Linked DNA regions of Homo sapiens: region 1 is linked to region 2. Evidence: fine-mapped expression QTL. Tissue or cell type: whole blood. Region 2 holds a variant in brackets; the other region holds the start of a gene. All regions are shown on one strand. Distances are from middle to middle.

Region 1 (8,100 bases), 130 kb after region 2:
CGCTAGATTAAGTTTCAGAAGGTCAAGGATCATTACCTAGGCTACCTTCATCCCCATGACCTGCCACACTGCCTTGCTCAGTCACTAAACATCAACAAAAATCACTGTCCCCAAGCCCTTTGCCAGAACTGCCTGAATGTCTGTCTGGTTTCTGCCTTCCCTCAGATGTCCTGCGGTTTGACAACACCTACAGCTTCATTCATGCCAAGAAGGTCAATTTCACTGTGGAGGTCCTGCTTCCAGACAAAGCCTCAGAAGAGAAGATGAAACAGCTGGGGGCAGGCACCCCGAAATAACACCTTCTCCTATAGCAGGCCTGGCCCCCTCAGTGTCTCCCTGTCAATTTCTACCCCTTGTAGCAGTCATTTTCGCACAACCCTGAAGCCCAAAGAAACTGGGCTGGAGGACAGACCTCAGGAGCTTTCATTTCAGTTAGGCAGAGGAAGAGCGACTGCAGTGGGTCTCCGTGTCTATCAAATACCTAAGGAGTCCCCAGGAGCTGGCTGGCCATCGTGATAGGATCTGTCTGTCCTGTAAACTGTGCCAACTTCACCTGTCCAGGGACAGCGAAGCTGGGGGTGGCGGGGGGCATGTACCACAGGGTGGCAGCAGGGAAAAAAATTAGAAAAGGGTGAAAGATTGGGACTTAACACTTCAGGGAAGTCAGCTGCCGGGGAGAAACTTGCTCCTAAATGAACACATAAGTTTAGATCGCAATGAGGAGTAGCAGGGTAGCTGGTTGCTAGAGTTACGGTGGGGATCAGAAACTCTTCCAAACATTTTAGCACTGAGGCTGGGGTAGCTTTTGGCTTTTCCCAGGTCTCAGGAGGTGGCCTGAGTCAGCACACATCTTCCCACTCGGTAGACAGGCTGGCCTCTCCCTCACTTTGAGACTTTGGCAACTCCTGGGCCACACGGCCTGCCTCTTTGATTACTAATGATTGTCAGTGACTCAGAGCTTCCTGGGACTTCGGGTACCCACCCGCTGTTCTCCATGCAAACAAAGCGCCAGGGAAATGACCCACAGGGATCGCAGCTGCAGGGAGGGCCAGGGAGGTTGGGGGTGGGAGTGAATGCTAAAAGCAGATCGTCCAGTGCCCTTTTCAGTGCTACCGGCCTCTCACCAAGCAGTCCTCCATGTGAGCAACCCCGAGACAAAAATGCTAAGTGGGATCAAGAGAGCAGCACTCGGAGAGGGTGTTTGCCAGTCTGAGTGTCCCGCGGTGCCCGCCAACCCGCTTCCTGACTGACCTGAGCAAGGTCTTACTAAGCAGTCCCATCTCTGTGGGAGGCATGCAACGCGTGCAGGGAGTTCAGGTGCCGGTCGGCGTAGCCAGGCCTGGAGGCCCCCCAGGCAGGAGGCCGCCCAAAGGCGGGGCCGGCGTCTCGCAGACTAGGGGCTGGGGGCGGCCACAGACGGCCTCGAAACCACAGCCCTTACCCCAATCCCACGAGCCCCGCCAACGAACCACAGGTGCTGGGCTTTAGAGAACATGGGAAGGCGGCCCCAGACCTGGCGGGAACGCCTTTCCCTCAGAGCCAGGCCCCGGCCCCGTCTGGGAAGCTCATCTTGCGAAGCTGAGGGAGCTCAGGGCAAAGGCCAGGCTAGCGCGGACCGGAAGGGGCCGAGGCTGCACGGGCCTCTGCCAGAACGCTCAGGACATCCCGGCCTGGGTTTACAACGCTGTTAGGAAAATTAACCAATGAATAAAGCAACGTTCAGTGCGCAGGGAGTGAAATTCAATGCCCACCGCTAGGCTCCTCGCTGCCTCTCACTCAAGAGGCCCAAACTCAGACGGCGTCAGGGACCCGGACCCAGCAGCCGTTTCACGCCAATAGATAGGGCGCATGCGCAGAAATCCTCCTCGGCTCTCTAGCGTGAGCTTTCCCAAGGGGCCACGCCCAGCTTGCCTTCTGATTGGTCCAGCTGGTGGGTTGTCTTCCGCCATCTTTGATCAGGGCACTAAGGATGCTCCCCACGGCCTTCACAGTGACGGCGGAGACCCTGCCCCGCCAGCTGCTCAGTACGTGCCGCGTAGCCCGTGCGAGCCAAGTGTGAGTCCGGGCGAGCGCCTGCGGAGCTAGCACTGGGCCCAGAATGAGAGGGAGGCGGAGGAGCAGCGATCACGTGGTTTTAGGGACTGTCTAATAATTCCACGCCAGCATTGCCGGTGTTTCAGGGGGTGGGAACCGCTGCGTTCCCCATCAACTTTTCTCCCACCCACCACCCTCCCCAACCTACAAGCCCAGCTCAGCTTGAGGTAACTGCTGACCGGACTGTCCTATACAGCCCTACAAGACAGAGGCGCCTAGGGCTGAAAGCGGGGGCCTCCGTAGGGAGCCAGCGGGGGCCTCAATAGTTACTCATTTTCTCTACCTTTGATGAAAATAAGAGCTAATTCTTAATAAGGCCTACCGGGTATCACGCAAAAACCCTGTGCTTACTATTACACTTTGGGTTGTTGCAAAGATTAAAGGAAATAAGCCGTGCAAAGCGCTTAAGAGCTTGGTATAAGTAAGTGCTCGTCAATGTTGGCTACTCTCATTTTTTTTGCAGACGTGGGAACTGGGGCTCAGGGAGGCTAACAGCCAGTAGGCGGCACAGCTAGGATTTGAACCCAGGATTGTCTCCAACGCCGCTCAATTATACCCGCCAAGGAGTCACAGAGACTTAGTGAAGTGCACACATTGCTCACCTGGGTGAACTGAGGTCCAGCGGGGGAAGGCTTCCTCCTGTTGTAATCACTAACCCCAACTCTGTCTCCCTTGCCCGATTCATTCATTCGTTAATTAATTCATCCAACATCCTGTCCCCAAGAAGCTCAGTCTGGGGACATACTGATCCAGTTAAATGCGAGTGCTTCCTAGTTATACATGGCGACTGCTGAGAAGGGACTCCAGAGTCCAGGCACCTACCTCCCAGGGGCTCACCGTTCACTCCTCTAGCCTCATTTAGAGCTCGCATTAAGAGCACGGGATCTGGATCCACACTGTTTGGATTCAAATCACAACTTCACCACTTAGCAGCTGTGTGTTCTGGGAAAATGACCCACCTTCTCTGTGCCTCCATTTTCTCACCTGTAAAACGGGCTCCCAGGCTGGTGGGAGGGTTTCAGGTGTAAGACATGGAGAGTCCTTTAGCGAACATGTAGACTGGCAATAAACTCAATAAATGGTGACTGTTATAATTAATCCTCGGAACCATCCTAGGGAGTGGACACTATTGTGTTCCCCATTTTATTTATTACATTAATTTTTTTTTTTTTTTTTTAGTAGAGACGAGGTCTCGCTATGTTGTCCAGGCTGTTCTCGAACCCTTGGGCTCAAGAGATCTTCCCGCCTCCGGCCTCCCAAAGTGCTGGGATCACAGGCGTGAGCCAACGGGCCCAGCCTGTGTCCCTCCCTCGTTTTTACAAATGAATAAAGAGATGCTGGATAAGCCCGAGGTCACAAGCTTTGCAGTGTAGCATCCCCCAACTTGATCCCCTGTCTCTTTGGCTCCAAAACCTACACTCAGTCCTGGGAGCGATTAGCGCCAACAGCTCAGAGAAAACGTGACGAAAACCAGTCTGTAAAACCCGAGCCTGGGAGAGGGGCTTCGGTGCGCGGGGGGAATTTGCAGACGCTCCCTGCTGGCGGAGATTTCCTGACCTGTCCTTCGGCGCGGGACTTTCGGCGGGTCCCGGCCGGGCAGACCCAAGTGCCGGCGGCGGAGACTGCAGTGGAGCCAGTACCGGCTGTAGTGGCCGGGGCCGTGGCGGGAGAGTCATGTCAGAGCCGCAGCCGCGGGGCGCAGAGCGCGATCTCTACCGGGACACGTGGGTGCGATACCTGGGTGAGCGCGGGGCGACGGGCGCGGCGACCCCACCACCACTGGGCTGGAGAAGCAGGGGTCGCCGGACGCCCGCCCGGGGCCTGGAGGAGGCGGGATGATCTTAGTTCTCATTCTGCTTTTGGGCCGGAGACTGGGCTCAGACAGGGCTAGGGACTTGCCCAAGGTCACACTACCCTGGTGGGTCGCCCAGGGCGGAAGCTCCCATGGGGTGAGCGGGCTGCCCGCTCTGGCATGCGCTCTGGCTGGCTGTGGAGTCGGGATCTCCACTCCCATTTCGGTCCTGACACGCACTGGCTCTGTCTGAACCTCAGTTTCCTCCTCGGCAAAAAAACAAAAACAAAACAAAAAACAAACGAGATACACACGAGGGCCTCTCTCATTGGGTGGTGGTTGCGAGGGTGGAATGGGATAAAGCGCAGAAAGCCCTGGCACTTGGCGAGCGTCTGGTCAGTGGCGCTGCCCTCGATCACTCTGCCCCTCTGGGTGCCTGTCACCTCATTAGTGCAGTTACTCCTGGGACCAAGACCAGGAAATCTAACCAATAAGCAATGGTAACAGTGACTCAGTGCTCAGTCCGCCCTCAGTGGCCCGAGTCCGAGGTGGGCATCATGGCACCAGTTTACATCTCGGAAAGGGAGGCTCAGAGAGGTCAAGTCACTTGCCTAAGGTCACCCAGGGACTGCTTAGCTGGCTAGGATGAGAACCAGCCTGCTCCAACGCCCCCTCGTGGAACAGTTGCGAGCCTAGGAATTAAATGTTCCCTCCCCCAGGCTATGCCAATGAGGTGGGCGAGGCTTTCCGCTCTCTTGTGCCAGCGGCGGTGGTGTGGCTGAGCTATGGCGTGGCCAGCTCCTACGTGCTGGCGGATGCCATTGACAAAGGCAAGAAGGCTGGAGAGGTGAGTGTTAGCCTATTTTCCAACCCCCAACCCTAGCTCTCTTCTTGTGTGGTTCAGTCCACAGCCTTGCATGTGATAAAGTCCCTGTGGGACACTCCAGTCCCTACAACCTTGCCTAGTGCAGTCCATAGACAGTCCTGTTTGTAGGACAGTGTACCCCTGCCCCCACACTCCCACTCCCCGAACTGGATGTGGCAGACTGTACCCCACTCCTGGGTGCGGACAAGTCCACTGGCCACTTGCCCCTCCCGGTCTAGCCTCGTGCCCCTTGTCGCAGGATTTTCTGCCTCTGCCCCAGCTGGATTAAGTGTCTCTGCGCCCACCAGGTGCCCAGCCCTGAAGCAGGCCGCAGCGCCAGGGTGACTGTGGCTGTGGTGGACACCTTTGTATGGCAGGCTCTAGCCTCTGTGGCCATTCCGGGCTTCACCATCAACCGCGTGTGTGCTGCCTCTCTCTATGTCCTGGGCACTGCCACCCGCTGGCCCCTGGCTGTCCGCAAGTGGACCACCACCGCGCTTGGGCTGTTGACCATCCCCATCATTATCCACCCCATTGACAGGTGGGTACCTTCTTGGCCTCAGGGATCATCCACTCTCCAGTGATGAGAGTGGATCATCCAGTCTCCAGGTAGAGCTAGACTCTGTGAAGTGTGGGGTATGCCCACTTTGCTGGAGCAATAGCAGGGACAAGGCTGGCACTTGGCTCCTGGGTTAGAAAGGACAGCCTGTACCCTTGTCATATGGTATGGCAGGCACTTTAGCAATAAAAGAAGAGGGGTGCGTTGAGGGTATGGGACACAGGACAAGTAAATTCCCAGAAAGAAAGTCTAGTGTTACAAAACAACCAGAGAGAAGCAGGAGCAGGTGCACCCTAGAGGGGATGCATTTTGGGAGGTATTGGTGACAGAAGCCTAACTCAAACTGAATATTTGAATAAAATGGAGTAAAAGTCCAGGGCTGTGTTGCATTCAGGCATGGCTAGATCTAGGTACCCAAATTATGTCATTAGGGGTCTGGGTCTCCCCATCCTGCTGCCTTTCTCCCCACCCCACCCTATTTCTTGCTGGCTTCACCTGCTTTCTCCTTGTGGGAGTAGAAATGGCCCTAGCAGCTCCCAAGTTCTATCCCACCAGCTTAGCCTCCCCCAGCAGAAGCTTTTAAACAGTAACAACAAAAATCCCAAGGAAGGGTGTCATTGGTCCATTCTGGACTGCATGCCCACCCTATGAGCCAGTTTCCCTTTGCTGATTGGCCAGGCTTGGGTCACGTGCTTGGTCTTAGAACTAGATATGGGCTCAACCCAACCAGACCAATGTAAGAGTGAGAGGAGCAGTCTTTCTCCAGGAGAAGATAGCTGACCCTGAGGCCCTGAGCAAGTCTTTTACCCAGTACCTCAGTTTCCTCCTGAATAAAGAAGAGGATGGCTTCTATTCTGGGAGTTTGATTCTAGCTTCCCCAGGTAGCCCAAGGTGGAAGGATCAGGATAAGGGTGGGTCTCTGGCTGGATGGCATTTGTATCCTGCATCTAAGCGCCCCTTTCCCTAACCCTGGCCTTCTGCCTTCTGTTCCCTCATGAACACCCTTGGTCACCTGCTCACCACCCTTCCACTCCCTACAGGTCGGTGGATTTCCTCCTGGACTCCAGCCTGCGCAAGCTCTACCCAACAGTGGGGAAGCCCAGCTCCTCCTGATCATACTCTGGTACCTGGCCTGTGCATCGGCCTCCTGCTTCATGTCAACCTCCTACTCCTGCCAGGGAATGTGGACACCTGGCTCCCTGGTGTCCAAAGACCCTGGCACCTGGGTGGGTTTGAGCTGGACAGAAGCTTAGAGACAAAGGCTTCAAGAAGCAGTGGCTGCAGGGAGTCACAGAAGGGCAGGACCTGAACGCTGTCTGCTTCCCTGGAATCCAAGATGCTGAGTGGAAGTGGACCCTGGGTGGGCCCGGCCCTGTCTTTTTCAGGAAAATTACATCCTCCCATGGAGGATGAGAGACTGAGGCTCAGGGAGGGCAAGGAATAGGCCCAAGATCACTTGGCAAGCTGGGCACCCAGGACCCCCAGGTGCTTGACAGAGTCACCCCATGGTGGTATGGCTGAACAAGGAGCGGCAGACAACTCAGGGAGAAACTCAGGAGTGCAGTACCAGGGACACCTCAGGACAGATTCTCTGGCCAGGCCCTTCCCTGACCCAATAAATCCTGAAGAGGTTGTTATGTCTTCATTTCTGTTTGGGAGGAGCAGGGATGTGGTGGTGGGGAGGAGGGATGGGTAGCAGTCTCCCCGCCCATTAGTGCTTCCCTGCAGGTGCCTGGCATCCCACGTTGGTGCTGCCAGCCTCCTTTGGGGTAGGCATTACCCTTTACTTACTTACTTTTAATAGAGATGGGGGTCTCCCTATGTTGCCCAGGCTGGCCTTGAATGCCTGGGCTCAAGCAATCCTCCCACCTCAGCATCCCAAACTGCTGGGATTATAGGAATGAGCCACTGCACTCAGCCTGGCATTGCCCTCTTTTTCTAGCCTCCTAAAGCACCAACCCCTCTGGGAGGGGAGCCTGTTGGGCAGATACCACCTGAGCCTGAAGGTGGCCAAGATGGTGGTGTCAGCCCCATATGAGGGTCACATGAGACCTCCTCATGAGGGGACTCGGCAGCCTGGAGAAGGAAGTGACCAGGGGGCTTCTTACACTCAGAATCAGGGAATGGCCTGTTTTCCTTGTGGCTTCCCCTGAGCTGCTGGGCTCGAGAGTGCTAGAGGGGGCCATTCCTCTGATCCTGGGCCATCCCCCTCAACAGCTCAGAGAGGTAGAGAGGTGGGAGCACAGGGCTGAAGCAGACCTGGGCCCCTCTCAGCCCTGCCCCAAGCACCAAATCAGCTCCCACCAAGACCCTGGCCCCATCCCTTGCAGCCCAGGTGCAGTCAGGTAGGCTGACCCTGTCCTGGTGGGACTCACCTGCACCTGGGCTGGGACTTAAAGGGGCTGCAGGGCTGGGTAGGGGTGCTGCCAGCAAGACAGGATGGGGGCTCCGGGGTGGTGGCCCCTGCTGCTCTGGGGGTATCCATGGCTACAGGATGAGTCTGATGTGGGCTGAGCCTTTCTCTGCTACTCTTATTGTCCCACACTGGCAAGGTCCCCTTCCCAAGCCCCTATGGCCTCTGCCCAGTCACCTGTCACTCCCTCCCAGCTCCCTTAAAGGCTTTAAGCCCCGCCTTGTTCTCTAGCCCCCGACCCCACCCCCCATTCCCTGTCTGAGCTGGCACTCACATCCTTCTCCAGCCCAGCATTTTCCCAGCTCATCTTCTCCCCCGGCAGTCACAGCCCCATGCGGGGTACATTCACACCTGCATCCCTGTGACATCTCCTGGCA
Region 2 (8,080 bases):
AAGGCCTCATGTCAAGGTATTTAACTCTGGCTAGAAAAATGGTGGAGCTGGGACTGGAAGCCAGGTCTGACTCAAAGCCGTCCATCCCAGCTCCTCAGCTACATGCCTCCCTGTGCAGGTGGCGTCAACTATCCAGGAAGCCAGGTGTGTGTGAGATCTGCACAGAGCTCTTTCTGGAAGGACATGACATCTGTCAAACCATTAACCTCAGATACTTCTCTGGGTGCCGAGGTTTCAACAAAGTTTTACTCTTTTCTTTGAACTTCTGTGAACGCTTCAGTATGTGCACCTTTACAAAACAACAAAGCCATTACAAAAAGGAAAATCTTTTCTTGGTCATTTGAAATGTTCTCTACCTTGATCTGCATGTTGGTTACATGGATGTGTATTATTTATCAAAACTCACTGAACTGCATGCACATTCAAGATCTATGCATTTTACTGTATGTAAATTCATACCTCAATTTTTAAAAAAGAAAGAAAAAATAAATAAGGAGGAAGCCCAGAGGGCTGAGCAGGGAAGCAGAGTATTCACCAGAGGAACCAGAATGTGCTGAAAGGTGTGGCCCAGGCACCTTCATGGGAGTGTTGGTTTAAGTACAAGTTGCCTGCAGGGCAGGGGCAGCATCAGGGAAGGCCCTCAGGAGGGAGGCCAGGTCCTCAGCAAACATACCCAGTGGGCGCAGACACAGGCCCTGCCCTGACGAGCAGGTGACTTCATACAAGCCCCTTTCCCTCTCTGGCCCTCAGTGGGAGTGTCCTAGCATTAAGCTCAAGAACCTAGGGTGCCAGGAACTTGACTAGAGGGTAAGGACTGAGAGGAGCGGCTGACAGAGTGTTCAGGGCTGGAGGGGACAGGGAGGGGCTGGGGCCTCCACACAGAGCCCTAGAGCAGGCACATAGCGGAGCGGTGGATGCGTGCCTCTGGGGCCCCACACACCCTTGTGATGGGGGTCTGTGTACTGTGCACCTCTAAGTACTGTCTGAGCGCAGTGCAGGTTTGCTTTTGTCAGAATGGGGAAGAGGGCCCCACAAATTCTCCTAGCAGTTCCCATGAGGTAGGAACCCGAAAACCCCGGAAGTCAGTTCCTAGGATGTGTTCATCTGGCACTTCAGCAGCCTAAGGCACTTGGCCACACATGGTTGGTGAGAAAGGAAAAGAGGGTAGCTGCAGATCGAAAGGGCACCGGCAGACAAGCAGGTACCATGGTCATGGGGCCTGTAGCCTCCACCAGCCTGAGGGGTACTGGCGCCATCATAAGGTGAAGCCAGAGAAGAAAGCCAGGTAAAAAAGGACAGGAGGTCCTGCCTGCCCAAGGAAGGAGGAAGAAATAGCACGTGCAGGAGAAGGAGCCACCAGCACCTGCAGAGCCTGCCCTGAATGCTGAGGTTGGGATGGGCCACCTGGACTGGGTATTGAATGGAGGGCCCTGTGGGGAGAGAGCACAGAAACAGGTGCATGCTGCCATCACCAGACCCCCACTGTGCCCTGCCTCGGCACAGGACCCGCAGCAACCAGGGGAAGCTCCTCATGCTTCCTCTGGGTCACCCACAGGCAAAGTCTTTCCAGGTGTGCTCACAAACCATTCTTCCAGCCCCCAGAACCATGCAGGAACCCGTCACTCAGCTTCGGTGCATCAAGAAGGCCTTCTCTGCAAATCCACCTCCTCACACAAGCAACTTTCCAGACCCCCTGGGGGGTGGCTGATTCTTCTCTGGAAGCACAGCTCTACACACACATGCACACAGCTCTGTGTTCTGCTGCACACACACTCATGCTTGCTGAACCACACAGCCAAGAGGCTGACCAGGCTGCCCACGCTCTTGGCTCTCATGCCTGGCTCTGGCAGCCTGATTTTAACTATGGACTTGGACTGAGGTTCCCACCCCTGAGCCTCCCACTTTGCCCAGGATGCGGCCCCTCGAAATGGAAGAGATGTAGCCACTAGGAGGAAGACTCTGGAGTCAAGAGGCTGCTCCAGTGTGGCCTGGTATTGGTGCTCTGGGGAATAATCCAATCAGCCAGATTCAGACCTACCCCAGCCAGACACTCTACCAGCTTCCCTGCCCCTGCAAGTCCACGTGTTGCCAGCAAAAAGCTCTCGCCCTCTCCAGGTCAACAGCAGAAACTCTAGGCTACCTTGCCCTGCTCCTGCCCAGTCATCTCAAGGAACAGGTTTGGCAAGACTGGAGTGTTCAATGAAGAAGCATGAGATATGTCAACAAAGAGCTGGTGGTAGGCAGCTCTGCTCTGTCTCACTGTCTGCCTGTCACCAGTCCCAAGGGCCTGCGAGAAACCCCGATGCCTGCGGCCAGATCTGGCAGGTAAGCCGGGGCAACCCCAGGGAATCCAACTGCTTCCCCATAGTTCCCTGGGGGAGCAGGCTGGAGGAGCTGCCCAGCTCTGAATGGAGAGGTATTTTACTCTGGCCAGCCATGGGGCAGGGAGCAGCAGGAGGGATATCGGGACAGGAGGAGGGATAACAACAGAGGGCACCCTCTCTGGCCACTGACTGGCGTCTGACCCCTTGAGCTACTTGGGCAGTTCCCTTCAGCCCCCTTGGGTTTGGCTCTGCTACTCCTAGGGCTGATGACCCCACAAGACACACAGGTGGGCTGTGCTGGCCAGGCTTGGACAAGGCAGGAGAAAGTAGAGGATGGGAGGCCGGGAGACACTGAAGGACCTGTGGTCCTGCTAGTCAAGCCCCCATAGGCCCAGGGCACAGGGCCCAAGGCAGTCAGGGAAATGGTCTGAGTGTCCCCTCCTGATGACCAAGAGCAGGGAGGTAGCCTACTGAGCCCAGGAAAGCAAAACCTGAGTGGTCATCAAGAGAAAGAGCTGGAATAGGGGGTACCAAATCTGGCCATTCCACTGAGGGCTGCTCAGGGCTGGAGCCTCAGTTGTACAGACCCTCCAGGAGACACAGGTACCCAGGACTGGGCCGGTCTGGCCTGCTGGGGCCTGGGCAGTTGGGCACATGACTGGAGGTTTCATGGACTGCTCATCCTGTGAGGTTCAGGTGAGCACATGGAGGATTGCCGCCATGGGGAGGACGCCAAGAGATGCGGAAGGGAGGGCAGGGCAAAGGAAGGGAAACTTACGTCAAACTTTCCAGGGTTCTGCTGTAACTTCACCTTGCCTCCTGACAGGTACTGCCAAGCACGGCCCCGCAGAGAAGGCGGGATGCCCTTTTGGCACCGCAGACGAATCTGAAAATCAAAAGGACAGCTGAGCCCATGCAGCCACCCAGGCAGCTCCCCTAGCCCAGCCCCTCTGCCAATGCGTGGTGGGCCCTCAGTGCACACAGCAGCAAGAGCAGAAACAGGGAGAAAAGAGGACTTTCGCCGGGCAAGGTGGCTCACGCCTGTAATCCCAGCACTTTGGGAGGCCGAGGCGGGTGGATCACCTGAGTTCAGGAGTTTGAGACCAGCCTGGCCAACATGGTGAAACCCCGTGTCTACTAAAAATACAAAAATTAGCTGGGTGTGGTGGCGGGCGCCTGTAATCCTAGCGACTCGGGAGGCTAAGGCAGGAGAATCATTTGAACCCGGGAAGCAGAGTTGCAGTGAGCCAAGATCGTGCCATTGCCCTCCAGCCGGGTGACAAGAGCAAAACTCTGTCTCAAAAAAAAAAAAAGGACTTTTCCTACTGTTGCTACCATGCCAATCCTATGGTGCGGGGAGAGGAGGTGCCTGCAATTAGATATGCTAACACCAGGTGATGGCAGGGTCCCACATCCCTGGTGACAACACAGGCATTCCTGAGGTTTGCCATGGAATTCCAGACCCTCATAACTATCTTCTGAATCAAAATGGAACCCTATAGGCGGGCACGCTGGCTCACACCTGTAATCCCAGCACTCTGGGGAGCCGAGAAGGGCAGATCACTTAAGGTCAGGAGTTCGAGACCAGCCTGGCCAACATGGTGAAACCCCGTCTCTACTAAAAATACAAAAAATTAGCCAGGCATGGTGGTGGGCGCCTGTAATCCTAGCTACTTGGGAGGCTGAGGCACGAGAATCGCTTGAACCCAGGAGGTGGAGGTTGCAGTAAGCTAAGATCGTGCCACTGCACTCCAGCCGGGGCGACAGACCGAGACTCTGTTTCAG[GA/G]AAAAAAAAAAAAAAAAGGAAAAGGAACCATTACAAGTTGGGTGAACCCCATAGTCTGTCACCAGGGAGGGCATTGCACTGTGTGCGGCTCAGCTGCAGCCACAGGGAAGGTAGCTCATGAGATGAACCAGAATGTGCCCAGAGGTGTGGCCTGGGCACTTTCACGCAGGTATGTTGGTTTCAGCAGCCATGTGGCAGGATACCGCCAGCCTAGAGGGGAGAAATCTCAGCAGAACTCTGAAGGAAGATGGGAGCTGCTCAAATGGCTCCCTCTTTGTTTTGGTCAAGAATCCCCACTCTCCTCTCGTTGACCCTGAGCTCCCAACATCACCAGCCTGGGGCATAGGCAGCTGGCCTGAGTGTGAGTCCTGATCTCAGCCCTTGCTAAAATGGCCCAGGTCTTCTCTGCCACTCGTAGAATGGGAGAAGTGAGGGAGGAAGTATTTGAGGCAGCTCATGACCCAGAGCTAGTGCTCAATTCCGGCTAGCTGTTTTTATCAGGAAAAGTTTTCACTGGCAAAACTCAATTTGAAAAACTATCAAAACGATCATGTCTTTTACAAATGGGGCATTGAGGGTAGGGGAAAATTCGTGGGGGAAATTTCATCACACAAGCAGAGTGGGGGTAAATTTGTCATACAATCAGAAACCCTACTACCTCCTAGCTGCACCGCACAGGCTGGAGGGACCCAGCCCCGTGTACTTTCTACATCACCAGTGGGCTCCTCCTGGGCTTGGGACCAGAATGAGGCTCTGAAGGCAGTTGCCCTGACCCGTCAAGGTGGGCAAGGACAAAGGCAGAGGCATCACTCCTGTGAAATGCTGTGGTGGGGGAGGGGTGAGATGGCCAATGATACTCCCTCAACCCCTGCACTAAGCAGCCTGACCTGGGATAAAGGGGATGGGCGCTCGGGGCATGAGAAGAACATCTGGATGTGGGTTTGAATCTAGCGCTGACCTTAAGCCAACCACTTCTCAACTGTAAGATCTGAATAATACCTACTACTGTGCAGAGTTGTCAAAGGAGTCCATTAGAGAGGGAAAATGTGCTTAGTGTGGGGCCTGACACAGTCTGTGTTCAGTAAGCAATGGCTTCCTCTCTGCCCCTCCATCCCAGGAGGATGCTTGACACAGAAGCCCAGGACCTCAGCTCACACCTAACTTCCCCTCACCTAGAAACCCCCTTCAACAGTCCTGCTGGAAGCTCTCAGAGGAGGGAGTACAGAAGCCCTGGCCTTCCTGGGGACCAGTGCAAACAAGAGAAAACTTTCCAAGGGTCAGAGAGAGTCAAGAACCAGGAAGGAGCCAGGCAAACAGGCTGAGGGTGGTGGGGGAAGAGTAGCAGTGGCTGGTCACAGGTGCCAAGTGAGAGCTTCTGGGACTGCCTAGAAAGGAGGCAGAGGAAGGGGGCTGAAGGGAACTGCACTAGACGCAAGGAAGAGTTTCCTGCGGCTATGGGACAAGGGTCTCCTTAAGGAAGCCAACTTGGGCAGGCTTTGGCAAAGGGATGTGCTTTAGCCCAAAGCCACAGGCCCTTCAGGCTCTCCCACAGAGCTAAGCTCAGCAAGAGGCAGCCCCACATCATCACAGCCCCCATCATATTTGGCCTTCTCCAGGAGAGCCCTGGAACACTTCGCGGGCAGCAAAGAGCTGGGAGTACAGCCAGCCTTTCCCACTCTGGCCTCCTCAGCATAAAGGTGCTGGAGGGGGTCATCTCTACCCTGCCTGCCTTAGGGAGGATGGTAGGGACCAGTAAGGATAAAGCATGGGAAAGTATTCCCAGAAACCACAGAGGATTACCATTCTCTGAGGCCAGGCCTTGGGAAAGGAGGTCTCTGATGAAAGCTGAGTGAGGACACACCCTTGCCTGCTGAACTCTGTGAGGGCAGGGCCCTGCGGGAAGACAGCATTCCAGCCCCAGCCCTGCCTCCCTGCAGGACCAGAATTCTGTCCTAGACATGGCTGGGAGTCTCCGGAAAGGAAGGCACCCTCCCAGCAGGACTATGTATGAGTCCAGGAGAAGTGTTGGGTCTGAGCCCACTTCCTGAAACAGGTATTATACTTCCTGTGCCACGACTTCCTGACCAGAGGGAGAACTCAAGCCTCCACAGGCAGGAAGAGCCCCGAGGGCAGGGCCCAGTATGGCCACAGCTGAGATGGCACGAGGGGCACCCAGTGGATGGTTCTGGGCTGGAGAGAAGCAGTGAGTTAGGGCCTCTGGGCACGGTGGATTGAAGCACTTCCTCTGGAGGCCTCAGCTGGGCAGGGGCAGGTCTTGGGCTCTAACCACAGTGCCAGGAAAGAAAAGGGGAAGTGTCAGCTGCTACTCTGCTGAGAGGTGCTCCCCGAAGCTCCCCTCTGGAATCCCGATTTTCAAGAACACGGAAGGTCCCTGCCAACCACCAGTCACCATAACAGATTGCTGGAGAGCAAGCTACAGCTCACAGTAAGAGCCAGAGGAATGATGAGGCAGGGAAACAGAGCCAGAGTCAGGCAGGAAGCAGGTGAGGAATAACTGTCTTAACATTGTTTTTTAAAAAAGAGATAGGCTGGGTGCAGTGGCTCATGCCAGTAATTCCAGCACTTTGGGAGGCCAACGCACATGGATTGCTTGAGCTCAGGAGTTCCAGACCGGCCTGGGCAACATGGTGAAACCCCATCTCTACAAAAAATACAAAAATTCGCCACGTGTGGTGACGTGCCTGTGGTCCCAGCTACTTGGGAGGCTGAGGTGGGAGAATCACTTAACTCCAGGAGTTCGAGGCTGCAGTGAGCCAAGATCATACTGCTGCACTACAGCCTGGGTGACAGAGTGAGACCCTGTCTCAAATAAATAGTTAGATAGATAGATAGATAGACAGACAGACAGACAGACAGACAGACAGACAGATAGATAGACAGATAGCTATAGAGAATAACAAGCAAGAGCCCAGGTCTGGGTGAGCCTCTCCTCTCATAGCACAGGGCTTCACCATCTACGATACAGTCTACGAAGCACTTACCACCACTTCGTGGGGAGCAACAGGATTATCACTCCCATTTGGCCAGAGAAGCTGAGGCTGAGAGGGTGAAGTGACTTGCCCAGAAGTTCCACAGTTAGCCACAGGTGTGAAGAGAGGAAAGGAGTGGGGCTGGGCCCAAGTCTATATGCCTGACTGTCAGTCCTGAGCTTTCTGTGAGGCCCGGCAGCCAGCTGTGCCAGCCTGGATCAGACCAGAGTGTCAGCTGATGAGAGTGGGCAATAGGGTTCATTCTGTGCATTAGGAACTTGTACAGAGAGACCCTAGCTGTAAGGCTCGGAACAGGCCTCCTCTAGGCCAGGTGGTAACACCATGCTGAGGGCAGCCAAGGATATCAACACACACACACACTTAAGAGTGGTGGGCAAGAATGTTCCCACAGGGCAATAGAGCTAGTGTCTAAAGACAGCCTCACTTGAAAAGGACTACTGGGTGATTTCATTTTCGTAAGACTATCATTAAAGTGTGAAGTTACTTTCTTCTTTCTTTGGCCAGGAGTCAAGAGGGAAGTCATCAAGTTAATCTAGAGGGTAAAGAAGGCCTCGTACTGTGGTGGCTAAGAGGGCAGGTGCTAAAGGTACACTGCTTGGGTTCAAATCTTGACCAGGTCATCTGTAAAGTGGGGATACTACTATTACTAACCTCACACTAGGGTGCTGTAAGGAATTATCCCAGGCAAGTGCCAAGCACAAAGCAAATGTTCCATACACGCTAGTTACTGGCAGTATTGTAAAGTCCTCCTTGATAGTTGGTAAGCAGCACTTAAGTCCTTCCCCTGGGAAGGCTAGAAGAAAGCTGTGTTATGGCTGTTGGCTAAGAGTGGCTTTGAGGTTTAGCTCCAGGACAATGTTCTGCATGAATCTGAAGTCATTGTGTTAGGGCCCAACCTTCCCCCTGCCTTCAAGCCAGCTTCTGTCCTGCACTGGCAGTTGGAGGACACCTAAGGCATC

Evidence for each region. PIP is the estimated chance that this variant, and not a neighbour inherited with it, causes the effect.
Region 1: MTFP1 starts here. The variant in region 2 is fine-mapped to the expression of MTFP1 in whole blood (INTERVAL, PIP above 0.99).

Annotation. Positions count from the first base shown.
Region 1 is chr22:30,422,112-30,430,211 of GRCh38, forward strand. MTFP1 (mitochondrial fission process 1) reads left to right here and starts at 3,657. Exons shown (of 4, transcript NM_016498.5): 1 at 3,657-3,835; 2 at 4,606-4,733; 3 at 5,060-5,292; 4 at 6,351-6,943. The coding sequence starts at 3,769. The coding sequence ends at 6,423. It overlaps SEC14L2 (SEC14 like lipid binding 2), which reads left to right. Exons shown (of 12, transcript NM_012429.5): 12 at 166-3,192. The coding sequence ends at 296. RefSeq lists enhancers at 1-321, 3,917-4,475, 4,476-5,036 and a silencer at 2,190-2,299.
Region 2 is chr22:30,296,342-30,304,421 of GRCh38, forward strand. It overlaps TBC1D10A (TBC1 domain family member 10A), which reads right to left. Exons shown (of 9, transcript NM_031937.3): 3 at 3,103-3,210. Among named protein-coding and RNA genes, the nearest start is that of CASTOR1, 11 kb to the left of the region's middle. RefSeq lists an enhancer at 6,192-6,281 and a silencer at 6,442-6,491. The variant GA/G (reference allele first, on the strand shown) is at 4,110.